Linked DNA regions of Homo sapiens: region 2 is linked to region 1. A link means that fine-mapping ties the variant in region 1 to the expression of a gene that starts in the linked region. Tissue or cell type: whole blood. Region 1 holds a variant in brackets; the other region holds the start of a gene. All regions are shown on one strand. Distances are between the middles of the regions.

The links. PIP is the estimated chance that this variant, and not a neighbour inherited with it, causes the effect.
Region 2: S100A13 starts here. The variant in region 1 is fine-mapped to the expression of S100A13 in whole blood (TOPMed, PIP above 0.99).

Annotation. Positions count from the first base shown.
Region 1 is chr1:153,751,307-153,753,806 of GRCh38, reverse strand. It overlaps INTS3 (integrator complex subunit 3), which reads right to left. Exons shown (of 30, transcript NM_023015.5): 8 at 1,399-1,528. Among named protein-coding and RNA genes, the nearest start is that of SLC27A3, 23 kb to the left of the region's middle. The variant C/T (reference allele first, on the strand shown) is at 1,555.
Region 2 is chr1:153,626,064-153,628,802 of GRCh38, reverse strand. S100A13 (S100 calcium binding protein A13) reads left to right here and starts at 1,298. Exons shown (of 3, transcript NM_001024211.2): 1 at 1,298-1,320; 2 at 2,270-2,483. The coding sequence starts at 2,331. S100A1 (S100 calcium binding protein A1) reads right to left here and starts at 369. Exons shown (of 3, transcript NM_006271.2): 1 at 307-369. RefSeq lists enhancers at 1-224, 1,051-1,876.

The DNA.
Region 1 (2,500 bases):
GCAGGTGCCTGTAATCCTAGCTACCTGGGAGGCTGAGGCGGGAGAATCGCTTGAACCCAGGAGGCGGAGGTTGCAGTGAGCTGAGATCACGCCATTGCACACCAGCCTGAGGGACAGAGCAAGACTCCGTCTCAAAAAAAAAAAAAAAAAAGAGACCTGCCTCTGTCACCTAACCTACCAGCTGTACAGCCTTGGGCAAATTACTTCATCTCCTTAAACCTCAGTTTCTTTTCTTTTCTTTTCTTTTTTTTGGGACAGAGTCTCACTCTGTCGCCAGGCTGGAGTGCAGTGGCGCGATCTCGGCTTACTGCAAACTCCACCTCCTGGGTTCAAGCGATTCTCTTGCCTCAGCCTCCCGAGTAGCTGGGAATACAGGCATGTGCCACCATGCCCAGCTAATTTTTGCATTTTTAGTATAGACAGGGTTTCATCATGTTGCCCAGGATGGTCTTGAACTCTTGACCCCGTGATCCGCCCGCCTCGGCCTCCCAAAGTGCTGGGATTACAGGTGTGAGCCACCGCGCCCGGCCTCAAACCTCAGTTTCTTTATGTATAAATGTAGAAACTAAAATACTCACAGGGCTGTCCAGAAGATTAAATGAGGTAACACATGTTTGTCTAACACAGTGGAGGCACTTAAAGCAATGAAATAGATGTTCAATATAAGAGTACTACAATTTCCAGCACTTTCTTCTTTCCTGACTTCCCAGGTCCTGGACAACTGCCTTCAGAGTGAGTGTGTGTGTGTGTGTGTGTGTGTGTGTAGGAGGGGAGCGGGTGCATGCACGATCACAAGCACGTGTGTGTTGAGGTGGGGTGGGGAGCAAAGCTGTACAGTTATTGTTCAGAACATAGCAGGACCCTGGGAAAGGGAAAGGGATATAAAAAGGACCTTGTCGGGAGGAGGCACACGGAGACTCCCTCCTCCAAAGTGGATTTTGCCCAAGCTGGATCCTTGGAATTCGAGGCAAGACTGTTCCCAGGGAGGGGCCTTCTCTTACAGGACTAATTCCAGCCCTCTACTGACTCAGTCTCACGAGTTGACCTCTGACTCCCCTGCTAGACTCCGTGAAGCTGAACACTGGCCACTGGCTCACCTCCTGAGCCAAGGAGCTGCCAGGAAGAGGGGAGGAGGACTACAGTTATCTGTCTCACTTTTTTCTTAGTAGTAATGTGGCAGCTGGAGTCTGCCAAGTAGGGGCTGTCTAGGAACTACATGAATTGTTCTGTACCTCTGCCATTCGCAGTTGTACTTGGCAAAGCTTGCCCTGTCCCAGGCTTCCTAAATCTGACCACCAAAGACTCTCCTACCCACCAACCTCTACCTTCTTGATTCAAGCAAGACATACACATTGAACTCCCAGCTCTCAAGGACAGGATGCCTAAGACCCTACTTACCTGTGAACTGAGGACTCAAGGCCTGAGGATTATGGATAATATCTTTCCAAAGCAGTTCAAATTCTGGTATCCTAGCAACATTCTGAAGTAGTCTTACGAGATCCCGACCAATCATCAGACATTCCATGAACTTGATAGGGAAGAGGAAGTGGGGGA[C/T]AGGAAAGAGAATAAAAACATGGATTGTTTACCTGCTGGAGGGAGGACAAAGGAACAACATGTTCTAGGGAGGGAAGGAAAGAGGGTTGAAGAAACTATGATTTCTTCTGGAACCAAAGGATTGGCTCCTAGCTGTTCAGGGGAAGAGAGCTGGAAGCTGGGGACTGATATCAAGGATGAGAGGTTAGTGGGAAGTGCTGAAGCCCTGCTGGCTTTCACATTAATCTACCTCCCTCTCCACTCAGAACTGTTTCAATCCAGTTCAAGGAAGATTAAAGTTTCAAAAGGATGGGACTGGCAAGTTGAGCCCCAGAAACCCTAACCTCAAACTTATTTTGTCTAACAAAATTCTGCAGTATCTAATTCTGTGGGTCCGATTCTGTGGTAGAAATGTCTATATCTGTGTAGTCTAAATGAAACCCATTAGCAACGTGTAGCTAATGCAACTAGAGAAGTGAATTTTAACTTTTTATCTAACATTAATTTTAGGCTGGGCAGAGTGGCTCACGCCTATAATCCCAACACTTTGGGAGACTGAGGTGGGAGGATCACTTGAGGCCAGGAGTTTGAGATCAGCCTGGGCAACAAAGCAAGGCCCAGTATCTACAAAAATAAAAAGTAAAAAAAATTTTTAATTGCCACATGGGAGGTCTGATAGAGGACAATTCATAATCCCACTAGACCATGGGAATTACCCAGGAGAGTAGGTGGGGGACTGTGTCATGGTAGGCACACAAGGACAGCTTATGTCTGTGGTATACAACAGTATCCTTGAAGCTGACCAGGGAAATCCCAAAGATGCCAGCTTAACAGGTAGCATTTCTAGGAATTAGGGCTATTTTACACTAACTCCCCCTCCTTTCTACCCTCATCTGTTGATGAATGATGGAAAACACCAGATCTTGATGCACCTTCATCTCTAACAAGGTATTTCTGACTCCACTGC
Region 2 (2,739 bases), 130 kb after region 1:
TGGCAGGGACTTGAGGGCTCCCTGTGGGAGGGCCAGGCGGTCAGGAAGCTCATGGTGGGTTCCCCACTGGCTTCCTCCTTTGCTGAGCTGCCAGCTCTCTCTCCGACCTTCAGTTCATTTGTCTCTCATCACCACCTTCCAAACCCTGTCTCCCCCAAATCCCAAACTGCCCTCACCCTGACTGACTCCTCCCAGATCCTCAGTGCTCCACAGTGCTATGGTCCCCAGCCTCTTGGAGCCCTTCTGAAGACCCCTCTCCCTGAAGCTGGCAGGCCAGGGACTAGCCCAGTGGGGCAGGGTACTCACGGTTGGCCTGGGCCTGAGGTGGGAGCAGGTTCTGGACAGATGGCCAAGGTTGCAAATGTGGCTGCTGGAGCTGTGTGTGGAGACCTGTCTTCAACAGTCCCTCCCCCGCTGACCCCCCCACCGACTCCACCCCTTCACAGACGAACACCCTGTGGGGCAAGGGGCCAGGAGCAGACAGAGGCGCCCTCTGTCTCCTGGGCTGGAACAGGCGGCCCTTGTCTCTTTCCCAGCCTTGCTTGCCCCGTTCCTTTCTCTCCAGGCAGCAGTGGATGGTGCAGGGGAAAGAGGTGGGAAGGAGGTCCTGGGAGGGACACTGGATGTCTTACCCCAAGCTGGGCCTTGCAGTACCTGTGGCTGGCTGTGCTGGTTGAGCCCGGTAAGGGGGGAATTCTGCTGAGGGGGTCTTAGTCTGTGGCTCCTCCATGGGGCCTCACTGAGAGGACCCTCAGTGAGAAACTTAGTCTTGGGAGTCTGAGAACCCACAGAGGGATTTCAATCCAGGACTCTTCTCTGGGGGTCTCAACCTGGATCCCCCTCTGTGTGTGGGGCCTCAGCCTGGGGTTCTCTGAGGGATCTTGGTCTGTAGCATCCTTTGTGGGATCTCATTCCAAGGGGCCTCTGTGTGTGTCTCAGATTGGGCCTCTCAGTGTTGAGCTCCCTTGATTGGTTGCCTCCCTCTTCCCCCCTCAGCATACACACTCCTGATTAGACATGGGTATGGTGGCAGCAGCCCCCAGTATTGAGAGGACTAGGACCCTGGGACCCCTGCCGAACGAGATCTGTCCAGGCAGCTCCTCTCCCTGACCAAGTGGGGGCGCTCGTGTGGCTGGCAGGGAGCCCGGGTCCAGACCTGAGGGCTCAGGGCAAGCGGCCTGATTGGGCTGTCTCTGGTCTTCAGAATCGACCACGGAAATTTGACACCTCCGGGCTTGGAAGCAGCTCTCTCCTCCTTCCCCGCTGCTTATAAACCTCAGCCCTGAGGCTCCAGCTCACTCTACCCCATCTCCTTGCCGGGTGAGTCTCATGGCTGACCCTGGAGGGAGGCTGGAGATCATTTTTTCTTCCTGGGCTCCCAGGTCCCTCCCCCAGAGCCAGCTCAGACAGGAATTCAGGAAGGAGCTTTGGATGATCGAGCAACAGCGCGTGCAGGAGTGTGTGACGGGGTGGACAGAAAAGAGAATGCCTCTTCCAGCCCCACCCGCCGCACCCCAGGGGGTTGTGAGTGCCTGTACTAAACCCGTCCTGGAGCAGGGAGTCAGAGACGCCCCGTTCCAGGACCCTTGTCACCGGGAGACAGGAGCGGGGAGGATCTGTGGGGTCCTGGGTTCAGCACTCTGCCCTGCTGCCGCTGAGGAGAGGTAAGGGTGGAGCGGGGCAGAGAAAATGGGTCTGTTCAGACGGAGCCAGCTCTGACCACAGGGGACATTTGCCAGACCCTGTGCTTCTCTGCTGGGAGGAGCGGTTAGAGTGTGTGTGGGCGGATGCGAGTGGCCGGAGACCAGGGCCCAACATAAACAAGCTTTGGAGACAAACAACCTTATGACCTGTGAGTCTGGGTGAGACAAGAAGGGATTCTTGAGACAGACACGCCACAGAGGGGCCACCAGACTTGAAGGACTCCAAGAAGGACCTTCAACTGAAGACCTCCTCTCAAGTAGAGGGGTCTCCAGATCGAGGGATCACCACAGAGGGGTCCCTAAGCCACAGACATTTAAAAAGGATCCCGGATTGTGAGACCTACAGAAGAGGGGGTTTCTGGAGCTGAATCTCCTGCCCCCACCAAAACTGAGATGCCGTTGCCTGGTCTGCTGCCCCAAGCTCAACCCCTGTCCTCTCCCTCTTTCCCCATATGCCCCCTCCAGGCTGAGACTGATGTGATAACACCAAGGCAGGGACCTTCTGAACCATTCCTGCATCTTGGGGCTCCCTGACTCTCCCTCTCTGCTCCTTCTCTCTTCCACAGGTCAGCCCTGACAAAGGTCAGCTAGCCCCTTGAGGACATCAGCTTTGGCCTCAGGGTCCTAATGGCAGCAGAACCACTGACAGAGCTAGAGGAGTCCATTGAGACCGTGGTCACCACCTTCTTCACCTTTGCAAGGCAGGAGGGCCGGAAGGATAGCCTCAGCGTCAACGAGTTCAAAGAGCTGGTTACCCAGCAGTTGCCCCATCTGCTCAAGGTAGGCAGAAGTCTGGGACTGAGATTTTGTGAGATGATGATTATGGGACACTGTGTTTAGGACGTGATGGTGCCGAGTACGGTGAGGTGACCACAAGAAAGGGTGTGGGTGGCTGCATGTGTCAATGGTTGCAGGTTTTCTTTTGTTTTTTCGAGACAAAGTCTCACTCTGTTGCCCAGGCCGGAGTGCAGTGGTGTGATCTTGGCTCACTGCAACCTCCATCTCCGGGGTTCAAGTGATTCTCCTGCCTCAGCCT